Homo sapiens: one gene and its partners. The protein of the gene in region 1 purifies or fractionates together with the protein of each later gene. This does not show direct contact. Each region holds a gene or a part of one and is shown on either strand. Other genes may lie near its edges.

What was found.
Region 2: the proteins of LRRN2 (region 1) and USP22 purify together in Homo sapiens (affinity purification with mass spectrometry; 2 studies listed by BioGRID and IntAct, with this or other methods). This does not show direct contact.
Region 3: the proteins of LRRN2 (region 1) and FGFR1 purify together in Homo sapiens (affinity purification with mass spectrometry; 2 studies listed by BioGRID and IntAct, with this or other methods). This does not show direct contact.
Region 4: the proteins of LRRN2 (region 1) and FBXO11 purify together in Homo sapiens (affinity purification with mass spectrometry; 2 studies listed by BioGRID and IntAct, with this or other methods). This does not show direct contact.
Region 5: the proteins of LRRN2 (region 1) and BIRC2 purify together in Homo sapiens (co-immunoprecipitation; 3 studies listed by BioGRID and IntAct, with this or other methods). This does not show direct contact.
Region 6: the proteins of LRRN2 (region 1) and KLHL22 purify together in Homo sapiens (co-immunoprecipitation; one large-scale study listed by IntAct). This does not show direct contact.
Region 7: the proteins of LRRN2 (region 1) and PTPRD purify together in Homo sapiens (affinity purification with mass spectrometry; one large-scale study listed by BioGRID and IntAct). This does not show direct contact.

The regions. Positions count from the first base shown.
Region 1 is NC_000001.11:204,675,739-204,679,238, reverse strand, and holds part of LRRN2 (leucine-rich repeat neuronal protein 2 precursor), read left to right. Parts: intron 1-3,500.
Region 2 is NC_000017.11:21,033,012-21,036,511, forward strand, and holds part of USP22 (ubiquitin carboxyl-terminal hydrolase 22), read right to left. Parts: intron 1-3,500. UniProt on the Homo sapiens protein: Deubiquitinase that plays a role in several cellular processes including transcriptional regulation, cell cycle progression or innate immunity.
Region 3 is NC_000008.11:38,420,136-38,423,635, forward strand, and holds part of FGFR1 (fibroblast growth factor receptor 1 isoform 1 precursor), read right to left. Parts: intron 1,807-3,500; coding exon 1,662-1,806; intron 1-1,661. UniProt on the Homo sapiens protein: Tyrosine-protein kinase that acts as a cell-surface receptor for fibroblast growth factors and plays an essential role in the regulation of embryonic development, cell proliferation, differentiation and migration.
Region 4 is NC_000002.12:47,806,420-47,809,459, forward strand, and holds the end of FBXO11 (F-box only protein 11), read right to left. Parts: intron 2,848-3,040; coding exon 2,739-2,847; intron 2,168-2,738; exon of another isoform or gene 2,104-2,167; intron 2,009-2,103; coding exon 1,910-2,008; coding exon of another isoform or gene 1,829-1,909; coding exon 1,699-1,828; 3' UTR 501-1,698; downstream 1-500. Other genes in the region: DNA mismatch repair protein Msh6, read left to right, coding at 33-232, 360-441. UniProt on the Homo sapiens protein: Substrate recognition component of a SCF (SKP1-CUL1-F-box protein) E3 ubiquitin-protein ligase complex which mediates the ubiquitination and subsequent proteasomal degradation of target proteins, such as DTL/CDT2, BCL6, SNAI1 and PRDM1/BLIMP1.
Region 5 is NC_000011.10:102,350,214-102,353,713, reverse strand, and holds part of BIRC2 (baculoviral IAP repeat-containing protein 2), read right to left. Parts: coding exon 2,965-3,500; intron 2,871-2,964; coding exon 2,771-2,870; intron 1-2,770. UniProt on the Homo sapiens protein: Multi-functional protein which regulates not only caspases and apoptosis, but also modulates inflammatory signaling and immunity, mitogenic kinase signaling, and cell proliferation, as well as cell invasion and metastasis.
Region 6 is NC_000022.11:20,468,296-20,471,795, forward strand, and holds part of KLHL22 (kelch-like protein 22), read right to left. Parts: intron 3,221-3,500; coding exon 3,055-3,220; intron 1-3,054. UniProt on the Homo sapiens protein: Substrate-specific adapter of a BCR (BTB-CUL3-RBX1) E3 ubiquitin ligase complex required for chromosome alignment and localization of PLK1 at kinetochores.
Region 7 is NC_000009.12:10,606,503-10,610,002, reverse strand, and holds part of PTPRD (receptor-type tyrosine-protein phosphatase delta isoform 1 precursor), read left to right. Parts: intron 1-3,500.

The DNA of each region.
Region 1 (3,500 bases):
ATTTGACACTTCACCCTGCCTGGCTGTCACCACTCCTCTTCCCCTGCCTTCTGCTGGGGCTCAGACAGCTTCAGGCCTCGAGCCTGAGAAAGTGCCTGCCCAGAATTGGGCCCAGGGGTTGAATGGTGGAATCTACATTGCGAGGGGACCTGCAGAATCATCCTGTCCACTGCCCATCTCGAGCGCCACCAGGCCTCAGCCATCTCAGACATGGGATGGGGCTGGAGTCTCTTCGTTCAGCAAGTATTTGTGAGGCATGTAGCCAGGCACTGAGGGCAGACAGCAGTGAATGACCAGACAGACCTCTGCCCTTCAGGAGCTTTTAGTTTATTGTCTGGGGATGCAGTAAAATAGACTCATAAAGGAAATGGCACATTGGAGGCTGGTAAGTGCTAAAGAGAAAAAACAGGGAAGGGAAATGGAAGAGTCAGTTGGGAGAGGGGGAGTTTGTTATCTTGTGCAGGGTGGCTACAGAGACCTCACTGAGAAGGTGATATCTGAGGAGAGATGAGGGGGTGGCACCACAGTCGGGGCAAGCTGGGCAGAGGGGACAGCAGGTGCAAGGGCAGGGATGCAGGGCTGTGCCTGGAGAGTCAGAGGCGGCGTGGAGGCTGGCGTGGCTGGAGTGTGGTGAGGGCAGAGAGTTGCAGGAGATAAAGTCAGAGGGTCAGGAGGAGGTTAGCTCTAGGAGAGGTCTGGAGCTGGTGAGGAGGGGGATTTTTTCCTCAGAGTAAGATGGGCTCTTGCAGGGTTGGAGCCTGGGGCGGCATGATTTGACTTTTTAACACCACTGGTCGTTGGCCATCCATTCCAGCTTTTCCCTCAGCGGCTAGTCAGGAAGTGCTGCCTGGTTGCCCTCTGCAGCCATTGGAGCTGTTTCAGCCAATCAGTACATCCCCACCAAGGATGCTCTGAGCACTGTCCTAGGCAGTGTGGGGTGTGAGGTTGGGAAGGAAATAAAAAAGCACAGGACACAGTCTTTACTGGTAAGGAAACCTACTGATCAGCTGGGGAGGCAGAACTTACACTCACAAGAAATAATGAGGGAATAATACCAGACAGTATTTAAAACCGAGTGCTAAACTGTGTGATTTAGACTATAAATGTTATCAGAACTGTGAGCTCTGTGTGGGAGTTATATAGGGAACGCTTCCTCAGGGGGGCGCGGCTGATTTAGGCTTGGAAAATGGAGTAGATTCGACTCTGCAGTGGGAAGGATTCTCGCACGGAGAACTTGGAGCTGGCAGGGTGAGAGGAGAGAAGGGTGGTGCTGCTGGAGGGGAGGTCACTGAGTGGGAGTAAGGCAGCCCACGTGGCAACGTGCAAGGGCAGGGTCTTCTGTCTCTGAGCAGTCCCTGCCTCCCACCTGGGTTTCCAATGCCCCCTGTACTCTTTCCAGAGACACGGAAAGCCACCCTTTCCAGAAGGAAATCCATTATCCAGTGTCCTTGCCCTCTCCTGCCCGAGACCAGATGATCTCTGATCTTGGAAGTCCTCTGGCTTCATGGAGTCCCATTTCCAGCTCCGGCCGTTGTCCCAGGTCTGCATGCTGGGAATCTCGGCCTCTTAGTTCACTGGTGTCTGGAGCCATGTTCTCTGGAATTCCCTTAGGCTCCATGTATCTACCCAGGCTGCAGCAGCTTCTCTTCTCCCTTCCTTTCACTGCCTGGGTGGGCTCCTGTTTGGTAGGTTACTCCTATAACATTCCTGGTCGTTTCAGATATTGTGAACTGGAAATAAAATTGCACCAAAATGAGCAAACTTCCACCCCCATGAGGGGTGAGTGTGTCCTCTCCCTGGATCTTGGGGATATGAACTCACCTCTGAAGTATAGAGAGAGATCACCAGAGTGGAGTAGACTAGGATCCATTGGTAGTGCCCTCACCCACCCAAGACATGGGGGGCGATGCTCTCCTCCCTGCCCCCAGCCCCCATGAGAAAGGGGGGCACACCCGCTGTACCCCAGCACAACCCCCTGGAAGACGCAGAGGCTGACCCTGGGGCTTTTGTCCTTATGGCTTACAATCCAGAGGAAGTGGAATCAGTTGGCATTGGGTCAGAATTCACAGTCCCTAGCCACCTGCCCTTGGGCATCTTAACCTTTCCGAGCCTCAGTTTCCTCATCTGTAAATCTGAGTTAATAACATCCACTTCCTAGGGTTGTTAATAATAATAAGAGCTAACGTTATTGAGTGCTTATGAGGTGCCAGAAGCTTCACTGCATTTGTCTCATTTCGTCCACATAACGCTGTGAAGTAGATATTATTTTCCCCCATTTTGCAGTTGAGGAAACTAAAGCCTGGAGGCCATGCACAGCCAGCAAGTGGCAGAGCCAGAATTCAGCCCCCAAATCTTTCTGACTCCAGAGCCCTGATTCTCAACTACCACATTAAATGAGCTAATCTGTGTAAAGTACCTGCTACAAAGTAGAAGCTCAATAAATGTTAGTTCCTTTTCTCAATTTCCCCAGGGCCACTCCTCTAGAGAATAGGGTTCTCCTACCTCATCACATTTCTTTTCCGGGATCCCCTGGGACATATGATAGAAGTGGGAATGGGAATGAGCTGCCAGTTTATACCGAGGGAAGAAAATAAGGCTAAGAGAGGTGAGTAATTTGCATAAAATCATAAAACACCGGGGCTGTGATTAATGCCCAGGGCACCTTGCTCATAGAAGTTATTGAGCCCCACTGGGTCCCAAGCAGTTGGCAGAGGGTGTCTTGCAGAGATGAGAACAGAGGTTATGCTGTATGGAAGAATGAGAGGCCATCATCTCCCCCAGGGTCAAGAAAGAGCCTGTCTCACCTGCAGAGGCGAGAGTTGATCATTATGGGCCTGGAAAGTTGCTAGCAGAAGCAGTACAAAGCTCAGAAAGGTCTAAGATCCTATGTTTTCTGAGCTTAGCTACTGTATCTAGAGTTTGTTCTAAACAATCTGGGACTGTTCATGAATCTTGGAAGAGGACAGTGTTGAAGGTCAAAGTGTGGAAAGACAAGATGCTATCTCACCTTTATGACTGTTAGATTGGCATGCCTTTTGCAACAGGTAAAGTGTGCATGGGTGGGTACACACACACACACACACACACACACACACACACGGCTCCATGTAACCTTGCATGGAAATAAAAATGAGCAGACAACTGCAGGGTCATCTGAATTTCAGGGTATATAGGGAATGGAGGTGAAGGAGCTGAGACAGGGCCATTCCCCTAAAACAGTCCTCATTCTTTCCTCCCCGGAGACCTCTTTTCTGGTGGGCATAGAGACCCATCTCTCTGCACAGCCCACAAAACAGCCTAAGCCTGCCAACATTCACCTCTGATGGGCAGACCCAGAGTTCCTCTGCATATCCCCCATGGAGAAAAGGAGAAGAGCTTAGGTCATAGTGCATCAGAACTGATGGCAACAGGAAGCGCTCTGGTTCTGTGGCTTTCAAACATTTACAGAAGTTAATCCATTTTTCAATGTATGGTAGGCAGAATAATGGGCCCCCTAAGAT
Region 2 (3,500 bases), on another chromosome or scaffold:
ACATTTGCAGACGATGCGGTTGGTGAGTAAGCTAAGGAGAGAGGCCCAGTGGGGGCATCCACAGGCTGACATGGACCGTGGAGGGGTGGCACTGTTTAAGCAGCCCAGCACACCACTTTCTGGTGTGGTGGCTCCTGCAGAGGCAGGATTCCCCAGGCTGGCGGGTTTTCCTAGAAATTCAACCTAGAATCTACTACTCCATAGCCCTTGCAATGATTTCTGAATTAAATCCTTTTCTCCTATAAATTAATTCAAGTAGATTCAGTAGACTGCAAGCAAATCCTGAAACATAACTAGGATTTGTATGTGACAGGAATTAGAAGAGGATCAATTATTTAATTGTTGTTGATCTTATGCAGTACAGAAACACCCTGCCAAATTCATTAATTTGGTCCCGATATTAAGAATATTCCTCTGAATATCCTGTCCTCTTATCTCCCCACTCACACTACCTCCCACCCCAAGAAGGATGCGGAGGAGCAAGAGGGGCAGAGCCCTTGTAGTCAACCAGACTTACCCTATGGGATGACTCAACAGTACACTGAATTTTGAGTCCAGCTTTTAAAAGTGTGCAAACATGACACACCACCTTAAGAGCTAGTGCACTTTTCACACATTACCCATGACTTCCTACTGGTCTAAAACCTGAGCATCTTAGGAAGGTAAGTTTAATTCTTGTGCATTCTCTTCAGTGACTTTTTCAAGGACTCAAACACTGACATAAGTGAAGGGACAGGTATAATTTTTTTTTTTTTTGAGAAGGAGTCTTGCTCTGTCACCAGGCTGGAGTGCAGTGGCGTAATCTCCGCTAACTGCAACCTCCGCCTCCCGGGTTCAAGTGATTCCCCTGCCTCAGCCTCCCGAGTATCTGGGACTACGGGCGCGTGCCACCATGCTCGGCTAACTTTTTGTATTTTAGTACAGATGAGGTTTCACCATGTTGGCCAGGATGGTCTTGAACTACTGACCTCAAGTGATCCACCCACCTCAGCCTCCCAAAGTGCTGGGATTACAGGCATGAGCCACCGTGCCCGGCCTAAATATTCTATCCTTTATATGAAAAAAAAAATACGGCACTAAAAAGCTAAAGACTTTGCCAAAATTAGATAATCTTCTCAAATTAAGTTCCCCAACCTCAAAAACCTCAGCTTCCAGACTCAGGCCCCTCAATCTCGGAGCCAAAATCAATCTAAGGGTACAGCGACTCCAGACCTTTCAATTTACAGAAGGGGTAATTTCATTCAGCAAAGGCAAGACCTCAGACTGACCTCATTTCAAGGCTGGGACCCAGCAGTTGCCGGTGATGTCCTTGGACAGGTCAGGAGACTTACTTGCCAGGCCTACCTAAAAAGTGTATCCCAACTACCAAAACCAGAAGGAAATTACGTATGAAATATAAAATATCACAGCAGTCCTCCCTTACCTACAGTTCCGCTTGCTGTGGTTTCAGTTACCCACAGTCAACCTCAGTCTGAAAATAGTAACATGGAAATGCCAGAAATAAACAATTCATAAGCTTTAAACTGCCCGCCGTTCTGAGAAACATGATGAAACTGAGTGACATCCCGCTCTGTCCCATGACCATCCCTTTGTCCAGCTTCTCCGTGCCATCTAGGCCACCTGCCCGTTAAGTCACTTGGTAGCTGTCTTGCTGATCACATCAACTGTTGCGGATGTGATCACGGATAAAAGTGAACACAAGCCACTTTTATTTGGCTTAATATGGCCCCAAAGCTCAAGAGTACTGATGCTGCAATTTGGATATGCCAAAGAAAAGCCATAAAGGGCTTCTTTTACGTGAAAAGGTAAAAATTCTTAATAAGAAAACAATATCAAATAACAAGGTTGCTAAGATCTACAGTAAGAACAAATCTATCCATGAAATTATGAAGGAAAAAAGTTTGCACGTAATACAAATGGGGTTCAGTATTATCTGTGGTTTCAGACAACTACCGGAGGTCTTGGAATGTATCCCTCAAGGATGGGGGTGAGTACTCTATTATCATAAACAGGAAATGAGGAAGCCCAAGAGATGCTGTGCTGAGGGACACACACTTGGACGGAAGCAAACTGGGGCAAAATCCTCCTGGTACTGACCAGCTTAGGCTAGTCTTCCTTTAAATTGAGCTCACCTCACACAACTGTCAATTACACATGTATGGGGAGCAATCACATTATCCTAAAGCCTCATTTTAATCTACCATTCTCACTTAATTCTCTGAGTTTCTTACCAGAGCTGCTAACATATAATAATAAAACTCACACTCAATTCTATCTCAATTTCTACTCTTCAGCACCCTCTGCTACAGGTACTGGCCAACATAAAACAAGAGGCAAGAAAAAGACTCACATATCCATTAGGCGGGTCATTTTAATCCTTGAAAACTGAGTTTACTTCCTACCTAAGCTTCCATCCGCTTAATACCAAGGTGATCAAGTCTGTGTGCTAAATACAGGAAAAGCCTTAATAGGAGACCCTGCTACCAATTTGTAGGAAATAGGACAAAAAAAAAACAAACCACAACACTTTGAACTTCCACTGTTGAGTATGCAAACAGCAAAATCCAGACTATAGGGAAGTCAACAAGTCACAAGGCCCAAGTTTTTCAACAGATAAAGTAGAAGCAAAAAACTGTAAGAAAGGAATGAAGAGAGAACCTACAGATTAAGAAACTTAAACGACTTACCAGTATAGCCACATGATAAATACCATTAAAAGAAAAAGGAATGAACTTTCGGCTGGGCGCGGTGGCTCACGCCTGTAATCCCAGCACTTCGGGAGGCTGAGGCAGACAGATCACAAGGTCAGGAGATCGAGACCATCCTGGCTAACACAGTGAAACCCAGTCTCTACTAAAAATACAAAAAAATTAGCTGGGCGTGGTGGCAGGCGCCTGTAGTCCCAGTTACTCGGGAGGCTGAGGCAAGAGAATGGCGTGAACCCAGGAGGCGGAGCTTGCAGTGAGCCGAGATCGCACCACTGCACTCCAGCCTGGGCGACAGAGCAAGACTCCGTCTCAAAAAAAAAAAAAAAAAAAAAAAAAGGAATGAACTTTCAATCCACTCAATGGATACAATGGATATTGCTAGACAAAAGAAGCCAGTATGAAAAGGCTACAGACTGTATGAACCCAATGATATGACATTCTGGAAAGGGAAAAACCTCCGAGATGGAGACGAGACCAGTGGTTGTGGAGAGTTAGAAGGTGAAGCACAGGGATTTCTTGGGGCAGTGCAACTGTTCTGTACAGTACTGTAGTTGTGGATGCCTCTGTCAAAATCCACTGAGCTTTAAAGCACAAAGAGCAAACCTTAATATATGCGATTTTAAAAATAACTGATGAGGCCCTATGGAATGCAGGCTGAGGCAGAAGAAACCAATTGTATTACACATATAGGACACAACTCCGCCAAGAGGGGTGGGGAGGGAAGTACCTAAGTAATGTGGAAATGAGGAGGGAGTGTAAGACTAAAAGCAAAAGGAACTGTAACTGAGCACT
Region 3 (3,500 bases), on another chromosome or scaffold:
CACTGTGTGCATGCACTTAACATGCGGGGACACAGATGTTTCTGAGTCCTCTGTCCCTAAGAAGACACGGGGTCCCTGAGGGCAGGGTTGGTGCCTCGTTTATTTCTGCAGGCCACAGTACCTGGTGATGGTGGCACTCACAGAATGAGGACAGAGGACAGGAGGGGAACCAGCCTGTGCCTTGCTCAATGTCCCACTTTGGGTCTGTGTCATCTCTGTAGGGGCACACAGGTAAATATTTATTCCTAGCCAAACCACAGGCAAAGCTGACTTAATTTCCAAAAATAAGCTTTTTTGGTAGTTCTTTCAAATTCTACTCATAGGCCCCAACTCCTAAAACTTAAGGAAATGTGGCGGCAGGGGGCGGAGTTCCATTTTGTTATTCTCTTCTCCCACCTTCTGATTAGGACTCACCCCCCACCCCATTGCCACAGCAGCTAAGCCAGTTCGGTCCACCTTTCCCTTCAGCACGAGAGGCTGGGAGGCTTTCATCCCAGCACGCACAGCACTGGTTTCATGGAACACGCTTTGCCCCACGGGTGTGGACGGCCCTCCTCCTTCCACAGGCCTCCTCCCAACCTTCCCCTTTAAAACCCACCAGCCAACCATGGAGGCGGCGCCCCTGGGAACCTTCCCAGAGAGGCATGAGGCATGAGGCACGACCCTAGACTGAGCCCAGAGAACGTCCCAAGGCCTGACAAGGAGACAGCAGAGCTGATGACAGGGAGAAGTGTTGCTGTTTTTTCTTTCCCTGATGTTGAGGAACGAAGACAACTGATTGGGAGCACATGGGGAGCACGGACAGGACCAAGACAGGGACGATGATAAAAACAGAACGCTTCTCTGCCTCCAGCAGGGGCATCCGGAGACCCTGACGGGCAAGCAGGGCAGAGTGGGAAAGGAGGGGAGAGAGAAGAGGGCAGTGCCAGCAGGAACAGCCAGACCCACATGCAGGACATTCCGAGAGACAGCAGCAAGCCCTGGCCCCGCAGTCACCAGCCACCACCCTGAGCAGGCTGCAGGCTCCTTCCTCCCTGGCTCAACACGCAGACCTCCCCTCTTGGGAGAGGAGAGACGGCAGCAGGCAAACAGGATACATGGACATCGTGAAGCCTGCTGCGGCTGCCTGAGACAGGCCTTTCTGAAGGCAACTCAGTTCACCTGTCCAGGCTGACCTCCTTCTTCAAAGGCAATAGGATGGCAGTACAGGAGGGTGGGCTGCTCTTTGCAAGCAGCAAGCCCCACCCCTGGGCTGAGCACTTGAGAAGGGAGAAGAGGTGTAGGGCCCTATCTGAGACTTTTCAGATGCTCAGTACCCAGCGGAGGGGGGAGGCTGCTGGACCCAAGGACGGAAGGAGCCTGCCCTGGAGGAGTCGGGCTGCAGGGTAAACCCAGATCCCGGGCATGCATTGCAATGGCCAGGGGGAGAGCAGAGGCAGGTGTACGGGTGGGAGGCCTCCGTGCGCCTGCAAAACTAGGGAAGCTCTTCTCTGAGCTGAGAGGATTCAGCCCTCAAAGCTGGGGCAGGATGTGGCACCAGGCAGGCAGGAGCCCATTCTTCCAGCTCTCCTGCCTCTGTGTCTCCCCAAGCCTGGAAATGCATGCTCCCCCCGTGCCCGTGGCGAGGGCAGGACATCGAGAGGAGAAGTTACAGTGTGTACCTTCCAGAACGGTCAACCATGCAGAGTGATGGGAGAGTCCGATAGAGTTACCCGCCAAGCACGTATACTCCCCTGCGTCCTCAAAGGAGACATTTCTTAAGTGAAGCACCTCCATCTCTTTGTCGGTGGTATTAACTCCAGCAGTCTAGAAGAGACAACGGAAGCAAAATGGACAAGCACAGGACATGAGACCTCTAAGAGACGCAGAGCAAGGGAAGGAGACAGAAAGAAGGGGGACTAGAGGAAGAAATGCTCCCTGACATCTTCTTTGCAACAAGGAACAAACGAAAACCACCAGGCAGCAAAACCTGTTAGAGGAAGAGGGTGAGACCCTGAGGGAAGAACTCCGGCAGACCTGAGAAGACGATGGCTGGTTACGACCCTTCACCAGATGCTGGCAGCCACTGGCCCATCCGAGCATGCGGGCGGTGAGCGGCATGGAGAAATGGGGCCGGCGGGCAGGGGCTGTTTGGTTTCAGGTAAAGATAGCCAGAAGGTGAACACAGGAGGGATGGCGGGGGCTGCAGACACACACATGCACACGCATACACACACGCACATGTGCATACACAGCCAGCAGATGCGAGTATGCAAGGGAATGCCTAACCCCTTCTCTCTCTTTTTTAAGAGATGGGGTACCATTCTGTCAACCCAGGCTGGGGTGCAGTGGCATAAACATAGCTCACTGCAGCCTCGACCTAAGCTCAGGCAATCCTCCTGCCTCAGCCTTCAGACTAGCTGGGACTACAGGCACACGCCACCATACTTGGCTAATTTATTTAATTTGTAGAGATGGGGTCTTGCTATGTTGCCCAGGCTGGTCTCAAACTCCTGGCTTCAAGCGATCCTCCCACCTCAGCCTCCCAAAGTGCTGGGATGACAGGCGTGAGCCACTGTGCCTGGCCTATGGCCCCTTCTCTTAATCACCACTCACTCACAACTTCAGTCTGAAGTACCATTTGTAACACAGCAAAACCGTGTCCCCGTGAGTCCTCACATGGATCCACACAAAGCCAAGGAACACACAGAAGGCAGAGAGGGAACCCACAGACACCAACACAATACCAAACCAAACCAGCCTCCCAGGCCGGGTATTTTTCCATGGCTCTGGGCACTAGAAATACAGTAGGGTGGCAAGGACAGTCCAGTACTGGCTTCCCCGCCTGCCCCAGCAGCTTGGGGCCTACATCAAATCCCCAGCACAGGGTCCCATCCATCTCCCCATTACCTTTTGCCACAGGTCTGGTGACAGTGAGCCACGCAGACTGGTTAGCTTCACCAATATAATTGGAAACCTTACACACATACTCCCCGCTCTGGGCCTCTGTCACATTGAACAGGGTCAGCACCTCCGCATCCGAGCTATTAATCCCCGAATGCTGGAACAAACCAACGACACACCAGTCAGTTGGGCAAAGCTGAGATGTGGCCACGCACGTTGCTCCCGTGTAACTTTCAGGCAGGCCCAGGGAGCGAAGGGAGATGTTAAGTGAGATTTATTACCTTTCCCTTTTAGTTTTTTTTTTTTTTTTTTTTTTTAACGCAGAGTCTCACTCACTCTGTCACCCAGGCTGGAGTGCAGTGGCGTGATCTCAGCTCACTGCAACCTCTGCCTTCTGGGTTCAAGCAGTTAGCTTGCCTCAGCCTCCTGAGTAGCTGGGACTACAGGTGCCAACCACTATGCACAGCTAATTTTTGTATTTTTAGTAGAGATGGGGTTTCACCATGTTGGCCGGGCTGGTCTCAAACTCCTGACCTCAAGTGATCTAAAGTGCTGGGATTACAGGCGTGAGCCACTGCGCCCGGCCTTCTTTCCCTTTTACAAGTACAGAACAAGTG
Region 4 (3,040 bases), on another chromosome or scaffold:
CACATGTATCGCTAATATTTTTCTTTCTTAAGGCATGCATGGTAGAAAATGAATGTGAAGACCCCAGCCAGGAGACTATTACGTTCCTCTATAAATTCATTAAGGGAGCTTGTCCTAAAAGCTATGGCTTTAATGCAGCAAGGCTTGCTAATCTCCCAGAGGAAGTTATTCAAAAGGGACATAGAAAAGCAAGAGAATTTGAGAAGATGAATCAGTCACTACGATTATTTCGGTAACTAACTAACTATAATGGAATTATAACTAACTGACCTTAAGTTTCAAAGAAACAGTAAAAGGGGAAGGGATGATGCACTATGAAAAAACAAAAAAACTTTTTTTTTTTTTTTTTTAATTTTAAGGGAAGTTTGCCTGGCTAGTGAAAGGTCAACTGTAGATGCTGAAGCTGTCCATAAATTGCTGACTTTGATTAAGGAATTATAGACTGACTACATTGGAAGCTTTGAGTTGACTTCTGACAAAGGTGGTAAATTCAGACAACATTATGATCTAATAAACTTTATTTTTTAAAAATGACCATTTTTCCATTTTCTTTCTAGGAAATTAAACCCTTTTAATTCTTATCTACCTTCTACATAATGGTTATTGAATACTCCACAATATATTAAGTCTAGATGTTATGGTACATGCATACACTTTCAGGCTGTTTTATACCCACTGTCACCAATACACATAAATGGGGGAGGAAAAGCTATGAAACTGTATAGGGCTGTATATATACTTGTCTCAGCTTAATGCAGGAAATTGGTTTAATTTCCAGCAGTTTTGTCTAAACTGTTCAAAAAAAAACTATGAACAGAGTTCAAATACAGGACTGTTTGTTTTGAAGAGACTTTCTAAAGTGTACTTAAAACATAGTAGTTTTTTACCTTTCACAAAACTGAGTTACAAGAATACTTTTGTTTTACAGTGCATCCCTTCCTAGGAAGTCTCATTAAAACACTCACTTTTTCTAGGGGTGATTTTGAATGCTGCACAGGGAAGGGAAGGAAATAATAGTCTTAACTTTTCTTAAAGGATACCAGAAACATTGCTGGATATAATTTAAGATTAGTGTTTTCTCTTTCATAGAAAGAACGTACATACTGGGACATGAGTACAGTTACAGCAAGTCTAGGTGTGCTAACAAAACAGGGCACATTCAAGTACAGTAAGATTTTGCTTGAAATTAAAAACAAACTACATGAGATTAAAGCATTAAAATCATATTTCTCAATCTGAATACATGTTAAAAAAAAAAAATCAAAAGGAACGCAGAAGTGCTAGCTCACATTTTTACCATATTACAAAAGCAATTGGTACCCATGTCCATAAAGGCAGCAACAAAGCTGCTTGTCTATTGAAGATTACTACTGCAAATTGGACTGCATTCAATGCTAGTTGTAAAAACACCAGCTTTTCAGAAGTTGGTATCTGTACAAAATTGCAGCTTATTTTCTTCACTTCTGTCCCTTCAAGTCTTTACACAGTAATGCTAAAACACCCAGCTTTGAGATCCTGAGTCAATATATTGCCACTTTCTTTTTGGTAGCTTGAGCTTCATAGTGTCAACTGACCTTGTGTATCCATTTTTAATACAGTCTCTTCCTGTAGCATGGGCAAATATTTTAAATCTTCTTCCAAAAAAGTGTTTTAAGTTATGATGTTACAATGGCAGGACTTTTTCTTTAGGGAAGGAATTCAGTTGTGCTGCAATGTATTAGATTCTATAGGTGGAGCAGAGTCATATAGTGTATCTGTATCATGTGTAGGCTCACCAGCTAATGTACAAGGATTAGACAGTGTTCCAGCACCACAGTCACAGAAAAACCTAAAGCAAAATGAAACCCAAATATTAGAAAAGTGAGGGGGAAAGTAATTGGGTAATATATCAAGCAAGTGTGCTACATACCTATCATGTCTAATAAACTCTACATCATGTCCCTGATGGCACTTCTTAATGCAGTTCACACATATGGCATTTCGATCTGTGGTGTTACAAGTATGACATCTAAAAAGCAAAAGCTTAAATTACTTTTCTCAAACATGTCATTAATGCAAAACATTCCATTCTGTTTATATATTACTATGACCTTTGGCTTTAAGAGGACCAAAACAAAATTCTTTGTGGCTCCAGCCCAGATTAATTCTGAAAAGGAACTTTAATGGAGTAAGTGATTTTCCTGTCATCTGTGTCTTCGGAGGGAAGAGAAATGATTTGTAAATTGTATAAAGGCAGTTCTTTCCACTTTAAAAGCCTCTCAAATGTTTCTGGGCTGAAAACAATTTTTGGAGGCGTGAAGAGTCAAAACTGTCACAGTGACTGGGATATATCAAACACTTAACCCCGACATCTTTACCTTGAAATTTCTAGGAAAACATTACACAACATGAGTTACATGAATGACATCAGTTACTGTAGCATTAGGTTTTTCCATAGTTATGGTCTTTGTTTTGTTTTGTAGAGACAGGGTCTCCCTATGTTGCCCAGGCTGGTTTAGAACTCCTGGGCTCCAGTGATCCTCCCACTTCAGCCTCCCAAAGTGCTAGGATTACAGGCATAAGCCACCACGCCTACCCACAGTTACAGTCTTAAACACGATCTTCAAGTAGATTGATGATAAAATTTTCAGTTAGTTATAGTCTCAACACCGGCAAATAGCCAAAAATGCTAGGCATTGCTAATTTAAAAAGGAAATCAGTCTTCCTCTTTTCAGGACTCAAATATATTTCTAAGTTACCTGTAGAAATCATGCATGGGATAGCTGGTATAACTTGATATTTTATATAAACATTGGCCTCTACTAACAGCCTTTTCTATGGCATCTTGATTGTTCATTATTTTGTTATCTGTAATAAAAGAAAGAATAAGTAAAAATTCAGAGGAATGTTAATATTTTAAAAACCAAAGATTATAGGATTATTCTAACAGAAGAGCCACTATTTTTAAGAGCTTTAAATGAAGCTAACCAATGAAGTAATTGTAAGAAATCAGCTAAGAATAGAATTTTCCTTGTATAAGATACTCCAACCATTTAGAACC
Region 5 (3,500 bases), on another chromosome or scaffold:
AGTTCTCACCAAAAAAAAAAAAAAAAAAAAAAAAGAAAGTTACTACATAAGGTGATGGATTTACTGAGATTAAAGATTATTCCCAGTTGAAATGTGGGCTGGGCTCAGTGGCTCATGCCTGTAAGCCCAGCACTTTGGGAGGCCAAGGCAGGCAGATCACTTGAGGTCAGAAGTTTGAGACTAGACTGGCCAACATAGCGAAACTGCGTCTCTACTAAAAATACAAAAACTACTGAGTGTGGTGGCGTGTGCCTATAATTCCAGCTACTCGGGGGGCTGAGGCTTGAACCCAGGAGGTGGAGGTTGCAGTGAACTGCCATCTTGCCACTGCACTCCAGCAGTGATAGGTGATGGAATGAGACACTGTCTCAAAAAAATAAAAAAAAGGAAAAAAGAAATGTGTTGTTTTCAGAGAAGCATTTACAAAACACGCCCCTACATCTTCTCCCTTAATCATTTAAAACAAAACACAAGTTACAAAAATAAAGATTTTGATTTTGTTTTATAAGGTACAAAATGTAGCAGTTCCAACACTGGAATTTGGAAGCTGTTTTTGTCTTTGATACCACAACATGGATTAAATTTCAAATTAATGTATATAATCCCATAGAGCCCAACATAATTAAGTCATTTAAAAGTCTGATAAAACATGCTTTTTAATTTTAAACATAATTAATAATTTAGTCATTTTTCAGTGTAAAAAAGTCAAAATTTATCTTGATATATTATTAATATTAATAACTTTAAAATACAACTTTTAACAATGTACTGATCCATAATAAAGTATTTGTTACTTCAAGTTTCTTTTTCATCATATATCATACAAAATGACGAAAACTTTTTAAATTTCCTGAAGGGGTTCAAGAGATTCTTCATTATTGTGAAAGACACTCACAGGTAAAAACATAATCTGTGATGTATGATTCCACTTATATATGATGCCTAGAGTAGTCAAATTCATAGAGACAGAAATAGAATGGTGCGGCAGGGGGCAGTGGCTCATGCCTGTAATCCCAGCACTTTCGGAGGCAAAGGTGAGCAGATCACTTGAGCTCAGGAGTTCAAGACCAGCCTGGCCAACATGGTGAAACCCTGTCTCTACTAAAAACCCTGTCTCTACTAAAAATACAAAAAAATTAACCAGGCATGGTGGCAGGCACCTATAATCCCAGCTACTCAGGAGGCTGAGGCAGGAGAATCGCTTGAACCTGGGAGGTGGAGGTTGCAGTGAGCCAAGATCGTGTCACTGCACTCCAGCCTGGATGACAGAGTGAGACTCCACCTCAAAAAAACAAACAAGGGCTGGACGCGGTGGCTCACGCCTGTAATCCCAGCACTTTGGGAGGCTGAGGTGGGTGGATCACGAGGTCAGGAGATCGAGACCATCCTGTCTAACATGGTGAAATCCCATCTCTACTAAAAAGTACAAAAAATTAGCCGGGCGTGGCAGCGGGCGCCTGTAGTCCCAGCTACTCGGGAGGCTGAGGCAGGAGAATGGCGTGAACCCGGGAGGTGGAGCTTACAGTGAGCCGAGATCGCGCCACTGCTCTCCAGCCTGGGTGACAGAGTGAGACTCCGTCTCAAAAAAAACAAAACAAAAAAAAAAAAAAAGAGAAAGACAATGGTGGTTGCCAGGATGTTGGGGAATGGGATAATGGTGAATTAGTACTTGATGGGTAGACAGTTTCAGTTTGGGAAGATGCAAAGGTTCTGGAGATGGATAGCGGTATAATCGCAGAACGGTTAAGAATGTACTTAATGACACACAACTATACACTTAAAAAATGGTTAAGATGGTAAATGTTATGCCTATTTTATCACTATTTTAAAAAATTATCTAGGCCAACCCCTCCTCATTTTACAAACAACGTCCAAGTTCACATAGCTACTCAATTACAAAGACAATTTAATTCTATTTCTACTAATAACACTGCCCCTAAATTATTTCTAGGCTATAATAAAAAAAGACACTGCTAGAGACAAAGTGGCTAAAAGGAGGTAAATGACAAAAAAAAATTGTACAGAAAAAATAATTTACAATTACAATTAAAATGGGCAGTCAGATATGCTTTTTTCTTTTTTTTTTTTTTTTTTTTTTTGAGACAGAGTCTTGCTCTGTTACCCAGGCTGGAGTTCAGTGGCACAATCCTGGCTCACTGCAGCCTCCGCCTCCTGAGCTCAAGCGATTCTCCTGTCTCAGCCTCCCGAGAAGCTGGGACTACGGCCACGCGCCACCACGCCCAGCTAGTTTTTGTATTTTTAGTACATACGGGGTTTCACCATGTTGGTCAGGCTGGTCTCAAACTCCTGACCTCAGGTGATCCACCTATCTCGGCCTCCCAAAGTGCTGGGATTACAGGTGTGAGCCACCACGCCCATCTAAGATATGCTCTTAATACATGGACTTTTACATTTGACTTATTCCTGCATCCATTCTATGTCCCTTCTTGTTTTCCTGTTCTTACCTTTTTCTAACGTCTTTTTAATCTATTTTATATGTCTTTGTAATCCTTAAGTACTCTTTAAAAGAAATGGGAAATAAATAAAATGTACGGTCATACTTGTAACTGACTTACAAAAGTACACAGAAGACTGCAGAATATTTTTCAACAAAATAATTAAAGTTAAAATGTGATCTTTTAGAAGGATAATTCCCCAATGGCATAAAAGAGGCTTTGTTATAATTTAAAGGTAAACAAAATCATGTAGGCATGCCTACTTCTTTTAAGCACAGAGTTTTTTGTACAAATACCTTTTTCAAAACAATTACCTTGGAAACCACTTGGCATGTTCTACCCATGGATCATCTCCAGATTCCCAACACCTCAAGCCACCATCACAACAAAAGCATTTGACATCATCATTGCGACCTTCAGGAAAAAAAAGACTAAATATTGAAAACACGTATGTTCTAATATGTAAATTAAAATAAAATGATAAAATGTATAGTTATTTGCTTCTTACCCACATAATAAAAACCAGCACTTGCAAGCTGCTCAGGCTGAACTGGAACACTAGATGGCCAGTACATAAATGTTCTCATTCGAGCTGCATGTGTCTGCATGCTCAGATTTGAAATGCTAAACCTCAGAGTTTCTAGAGAATTTTCCAAAAATGGACAGTTGGGAAAATGCCTCCGGTGTTCTGACATAGCATCATCCTTTGGTTCCCAGTTACTGAGCTTCCCACCACAGGCAAAGCAGGCTACCCTATCTCCAGGTCCTATATAATAAAAACCAGCTCTTGCCAATTCTGATGGTGACAAAAAAGTTAATGGCCACATATGGTAGGTAAGAAATCTGGCTTCTTCAGTACTCATTGCATAACTGTAGGGGTTAGTCCTCGATGAAGAGATGTCTTCAACTGCTCTAGAATTAAGAGGGTTTGGAGAAAGGCTGGAGTAAGAACCACTGAACAAGCTACTATGTTCCAAGGTGGGAGATAATGAATGTGCAAAACTGTTTCTCATTGGAGACGTATTCTTAGAGGTGGATCCCAGA
Region 6 (3,500 bases), on another chromosome or scaffold:
AGCAGCTCCTTGAGAGGACCCTGCTGACTCTCCTTTCAGTCCTATTTTTAGAGCAGTGGGCCTTCTGTTCAGTGAAATCTCACAGAGGAACCAGCCTGGGCTCAGGATGTGCAAAAGCCCCATACGAGGCTCACAGAAGGGACTGCATTTGCTTGGGGTAACCCAATAGGACAGTGTTACTGGGAATCAGACTCAGGCCTCTGGGGACACCGTGAAGAATCTGGTCCCAGGCCTACTGCAGGGCACAACACATGGGGGAAGCCTCCAAAAGTCACTAGCTATGTGAACATACATGATTCTACAGGCCTATGGACTTGACATGGTTATGCCAAGTAAAACCTGCTATAAAACAATATTGTGAAGAAGCCTGTTTTTTTTTGTTTGTTTGTTTTTTGTTTTGAGATAAGCTGGCATGTAGTGGTGTGGTGATCACAGCTTACTGAAGCCTCCACCTCCTGGGCTCAAGTGATTCTCCCACCTCAGCCTCCCGAGTAGCTGGAACTACAGGTGCATGCCACCATGCCCGGCTATTTTTAAAGTGCTTCTGTAGAGGTCTCGCTTTGTTGCCCAGGCTGATCTCAAACTCCTGGCCTCAAGCAATCCTCTCACCTTGGCCTCCAAAAGTGCTGGGATTACAGGCATGAACCTCCAAGCCTGGCCCAGAAGCCTGATATGTTAAAAAACTAAGATAGGCTGCTGCCTCTGAGATGACCTCTGAGGCACTGGGGGAGATGACCCAGGGCTGTCGGGAGCACTGGCCAAACCAACAGAGAGAGACTGCAGGCCTCCAAGCTGACTGGTGAGAGAGGGAAAGTGATGTTAGAAAGATGATCTGGTTTCAGTGTGTGTGATCACTGCAGGGAGAAGAAAGAAATGGCAGAAACATACAGATGGAGGCCAGGCAAAAGGGAAGGAAATGGAAACACAGAACAGAGATGGCTACAAGCAATACCGAGAAGGATGACCTGTCCTCACATGGACGCAGGGAATTAAGAAGGTGGACGGGCTCAAGGAGCCACTGAGGTTGAGCCCAGGGAACTGGCAGGATGGTCACAGGACACACAGAGCAGGGGGACTGACAGGGGAGCTCCGGGAGAGTGGCAGGTGTGGAGGAGGAGATAGGACAGCTGGACCTGAGCCATGCTGGGGGAGATGTTTCAGAGGCAGCTGAATCAGGAGTTAACTGCTGCCAGGGTGGAGAATTGGATGAGGGTTCCCAAAGCAACAATGACAGGGATGTGGGGACAGAAGAGATCTCTAAATAAAAGAACAGGGGGAAATTCTTTTGTTGTAAAAGCCAACTCCATCTACTCACCATGCAGGTATGGTGAGACAAGTCAGTCATCTCAGATCAACCCACCCAGCATCCAGGTCCTATCCACCAATCTGAGAACAGGGCACAGGGAGGCTGCCAGGGCCCTGTCACATGGGGTGGCACCTCCACATGCCCCCGAACAGGTTGGTTTTCCTGTGACTTGAGTTGTTTTTTTTTAATTGCGTCAAACCTGCTCTCATGGGAAGAAAGGTCAGAATGATGAACTTAGCATAGCATTTTGTTTCACTTTTAAGAAATGTGGGAAGAGGTGACTGTCAACTCCTATCAGGCCTCTGCCTGATAGCTCAAAGGCACCTGCAGGCCCAGTCCCGTGTAACTGCACCCACACCACTGAGAATAATCATCCAAAACATAAGTCACACTGTCAAAGCCTCAGAAAACTTTTTGAATTCTGCAGGAAAACAAGTACTTAAAGTTCAATAACAGGTTGGGTACAGAGGCTCACACCTGTAATCCCAGAACTTTGGGAAGCCAAGGTGGGAGTATCACCTGAGGCCAGGAGCTTGAGACCAGCCTGGGCAACATAACAAGGCCCCATTCCTATAAAAAAATATATATATATATAATATCAGCTAGGCACAATGGCACGCATCTTTAGTCCCAGCTACTCAGAAGGCTGAGGCGGGAGGACCACTTGAGCCTAGGAGGTGGAGGCTACAGTGAACTATGATCATGCCATTGCATTACAGCCTGGGTAACAGAGTGAGACCCTGTCTTTAAAAAAAAAAAAAAAATAGGCCAGGCGCAGTGGCTCACACCTGTAATCGCAACACTTTGGAAGGCTGAGGTGGATCACTTGAGGCCAGGGGTTCAAGACTAGCCTAAGCAACAAAGCAAGCCTCTATCTCTATAAAAATAATTTAAAAATTAGCCAGGTGTAGTGGCACATGCCTATAGGTCCTAGCTATTTGGGAGGCTGAGGCAGAAGGATTGCTGGAGCCCAGGAGGTTGAGGCTGCAGTGAGCTGTGATCGTGCCACTGCACTCCAGCCTGGGCAAGAGAGAGAGAGCTTGTCTCCAATAAATTGAATGAGTGGATGGATGGATGGGTGGATGGATGGATGGATGGATGGATGGATGGATGCATGCATGGATGGATGGATGGATGGATGGATGCCTGCCACCATGGATGGATGCATGCATGGATGGATGGATAGATGGATGGATGGATGGATGGATGGATGGATGGATGGATGGATGCATGCATGCATGGATGGATGGATGGATGCGTGCATGCATGGATGGATGGATGGATGGACAGACAAATAGATAGATAAAGTTCAGTAACAAAACACATAAGTTTTCAAGAGACTGAAGTGGCCCAGTGAGGGGACAGGCAGGAAGGGCCCTGGCAGCAATGCTGGTGGATGCTCCCCATTGCCAGACCCCAGAGCACACAGGACGTCCACATGCAGCCTCGGGTCAGCCTACCTGCTTATGTGCAGGATGCTTTCAATGACAGGGAGACTCAGACAGTGGGGAAACAACCAGCAATAGAGAAGAGGGCAAAGGCAGAGGCCTGGGGTGTCTAGAGCGGCTCTGCTTGAGCTCCAGGAACAACTCCAGAGTCTTCCCCACTTCATGGCCTTCGTCACTGCTTGGTCTCCTCACATTCCTGACCCATCTTCAAGCCAATGCTAGTGCCCGGCAGGCATCATGGGCATCTCAGGGAACCCCACCTGGGTGTGGGTCTGCCTTGCTAGATGAGACATGCCTCACCTGAAGCTGGCAGGCAGCCACCAGTGTCTCTTGTACATTGCTCAGGCTGAGCTCCAGCTCGGAGGTGTATATGAAATGTAGGATTTGGCACATAGCATTGTAGGACACACCGTGGATCAGGACCTCTTCCTGTTCCATCTCCTTCAATCCCCCAGCAAACATTCCTCTGCAAAGTGAAGACACAAGAAAATGGAGTTATACCAACAGGGACTTAAGCCCATGTTGCCAAGAGTGACAGCATTCAGAGAAGAACCTGGCGCTGGTGGCAGGGCCCTGGTAGTGGGCTGACCCACTCTGTGCTCTGAGTGAACTGTGTGCATGCATGAGCCATCCCACAAAAGGATCCTGACGAAGTCTGGGCAGCCATCCTGGAAATTGTCCTGTTTCCCTTTTCATGGGCCCAAGGAGTCCCATGTGAGCTTCGGGAGGTGAGGCCACAAGCAGCT
Region 7 (3,500 bases), on another chromosome or scaffold:
TGATTAATTCCTCTTACATGTGCTTACTAAAGGGGTTCTTTCTAATAAAGTGCTGTATACCTGCATTTGCTTTCAGTTGCTGTTGGTGAAGGCAAACATGTTTTTCTTTTCTTTTAATATTAACATAAAATTTACAAGCCTACTCTTGTAACTATAGCAACATAAAGATGATTTTGTTGACCACATGGTCTTATATTTTATGGAACTCAAGGCATGATTACTATTTACTAAATACACTTAATTTAGAAAGAAAACAATGCTAATTAGATGTGATATTGGAAGGTTGAGCTATTCATAACTTTTTTTGCTTTATTCTTTATGGAATGCCATGATATCTTTCCTGTGTATTACTAGTAGGATGCAGGAATCCAAATGTATGCAGGTGCAGAGTTCTGCAAATGCACATTTTTCTTTAATAATGCTGGAGAGTAAGTGAAAAGCTAAAATATTGCTAGTTATATCCAAGAATTAGCAGAATATTATGTTAAAATTTTAGGAATGACTAATAGTGCACATGACAATTATTGTGGTTACCACTGGTGTAAACTGTTCTGCAGTTAGAGAAGTGTGATTAATGTAACTTTACAATTCTAAAACTGGATTATGGTAGAGGGTGGTGAGTGAACAGAATTTATATAATAATTTGATAATAGGTGACCTGAAATGCATGTTACATGTTTGAAACTTACCTACTTAATGTCTTTTTAGAAAATTCTGAAAAAAATGTGATTTTCAAAATTACAGAATTAAATATATCTATCCATGTGTCTCTATTGATCTAGCTACTATCTATGTATGTCTCACATTTAATGCAGCAAATAACATTATTTCAAGTTCTCTCTGTTGTTTGGAGGAAACACTTTAATTTCAGTTACATATTTTTGGGCTTACACCTATCCTGAATTTAATAAACTTTAACAATGCAAATGATATGACAAATATTCAAGAATGCTAATTTAAAAGTTATAATGAAAATTAAATAAGTAGAATTTTGTACCCAGTTCAATGCCATTTGAACTTATCTTCTTATGTATTAAAGTGCAATTTCTTTACCACTACTGTCGGTTCACTGTTTTATTTTTTTAGGATTGTCAAAAGCATTTGGCATCCGTAAAGAATAAATAAATGTCTCCTGATACAGTCAAACAATGTAGACATTAACTGTACTTGTAACAAGCTTTTCAAAACTCTTAAAATTCACTGAATGAAGAAGAATTAATGAAGAATCAAAAAATGAACATTACCCGTTAGGAGAACACTGATGTGATTGTAGTAACAAAGGTTTTGAGTTTATCTTTCATCACTACAATTGGAAGTGTGACCCTAAGGAGGTAATCTGGACTCTCTGTACCTCTGTCAGGTAAATAAATTGGCTTAGCAATTTGAAAGTCTTTCAAGCTATGTGACTAATATACTGAATATAACTGAAGTTGCATTTTGCAAATTCTCAGATTATACTGTGGCAGTTTGAGAATCCTGTAGGAGTTAGGGGCAGCCATCTTGTTTGAAAGAGGGCTAAGGAAATTGTCCTGAAGTCAGGTCAGCAGTGCCTGGACACTCTTGTTACGTAGATTGAGATTGAATGTTTATTTGGAGTGTTTTTGAAGGAGCAGGATGGAGATTATGGAAGGGAAGAGGTGGACTCAAGTTTCTCTAAATGACCCTATGCTGCTGCCACTGAGAGCATATTACATGTATAATTATTTTTGGATTTTATTACTGTACCCAATATCAGAAGGATATGAGAAGAAAATAAGTAAAAGGGGATGCTTAGTGTCTTTGGTCTTCCTTTTTCCCACTCTGAAATCTCTATGTATGCTATTTTGCAGCATCACATTTGGATAAATATGCACAATTTAAATAAATATATATTATTCCTTACATACATGTAGACTGTAAGAGCTAGAAAGAACCATAGAAAAAATTATTTGAACCCTTGCATTTTAAAGAGGAAATTGAGAACTTCAAAAATAAAAGATATCAAAGTTGGTTGAATATCCCAGTTTCACAGAGAGGTTTTCCATCCTTGTTCAGTACCATCTCACATGCTATATTGCCAAGTAAATACACAGACAATAATTTTTACACCTCTAACTACATTATCAATAAAATAGTTTCATTGATCTTGTAGGATACAATACATTAACTTTAAAAAAATGTAATAACAAAACTTCCAATCATGGAAAATGAATACAAAGAAGGAATATATGCAATGTTAATTTTAAATGCTTGCTTTTCTTAAAGAAAACCAATAATTTATTTTTCATTATAATTCATGTGATATAACTGATGAAATTGGAAACTTTTTTTTTCTTCTAGGAAAATCAATATGACCAATTGTTTTCTATATGTGATAGGAATATTTGAGTTGCAGCAAGTAGATATGTATCTCTATGAAATGTACATTTTAAATCACTGAAGTCTGGGAGATCATGCTATACTTATTTTTTTAAATTGTAAAATATAGCCAATATAGCTGATTAATTGTAGAGACTTCAATTGCATTTTATTTTGTGTTTGCATGTGAGCATTTATGTATCTGTGTGTGTTTAAAAACATCTGTTCTCTTCAAAATAGGACTTAGTGAAAATGGTGTACTCAAAAGTTTAAAAGTGTATGTATAATAATCAAACAGTCAAAAAGAAATGACTTAGACTAGTATGTAACATAACAAATTGCTCTCTAATTAGTTCTTAAATCAAAGTTCAACAATACACCATATTACCAAAGCGTTGCCTTTAATAATGAGTCCATGTATTTTCTAAATACTATATTATAATAAGTAAATATTTTAAATTTGAAATAACCATGAAGCAAAAATATTTTACCTCTATATTCTCAAATACATTTACTTACATTAGATGCTAAAAAGGAAGAGAATAATTTCATATTCGATTATATACATTTCACATGAGATCAGAGATAGCTTAAATTAAATGTGTGTCTTTTCTACTGGGATGCCTTGTATGAATCATTGCATATATAATGCTATCTGATTTACTCTGTAAGGGAACAATTAAAGTATTATGATTAAATACAGAATTCATGAACTTTTGAAATAATTCATTTTTAAGTTTGCAAATATTTACGTAATCAGCTACAGAAGTCTCAATGCATTCATCATATTAGAACTTCTGTGAATTATAGATTTTACAAACTGTCCAAAGTTATAGTTCTCAAATGTAGTTTGTGTTAAAAAGGGGACTCCTTCAGCAGCTACACGAACAGAGAACAAAGCCAGGCAAGCATTGTGTTCACATGCATTTTTTACTACTACCCACATGTAACATGACATACGTATCATAGGAATACTTCCATTCCCTTGTCTGGTTAAATAGTCCTTGCTCAGTTAAGATAAAGGCCTAGATATAGCTTCTTTATACCACATAGAAAATAACCCAAACCTCATATTTTATCTCAAGTTCCAGGAAAGGTTAATTTAGAGCACAGAAACAGAAAAAAAAAAAAAGAAAATAAAGAAGAAGTAATGGAGTGTTTCC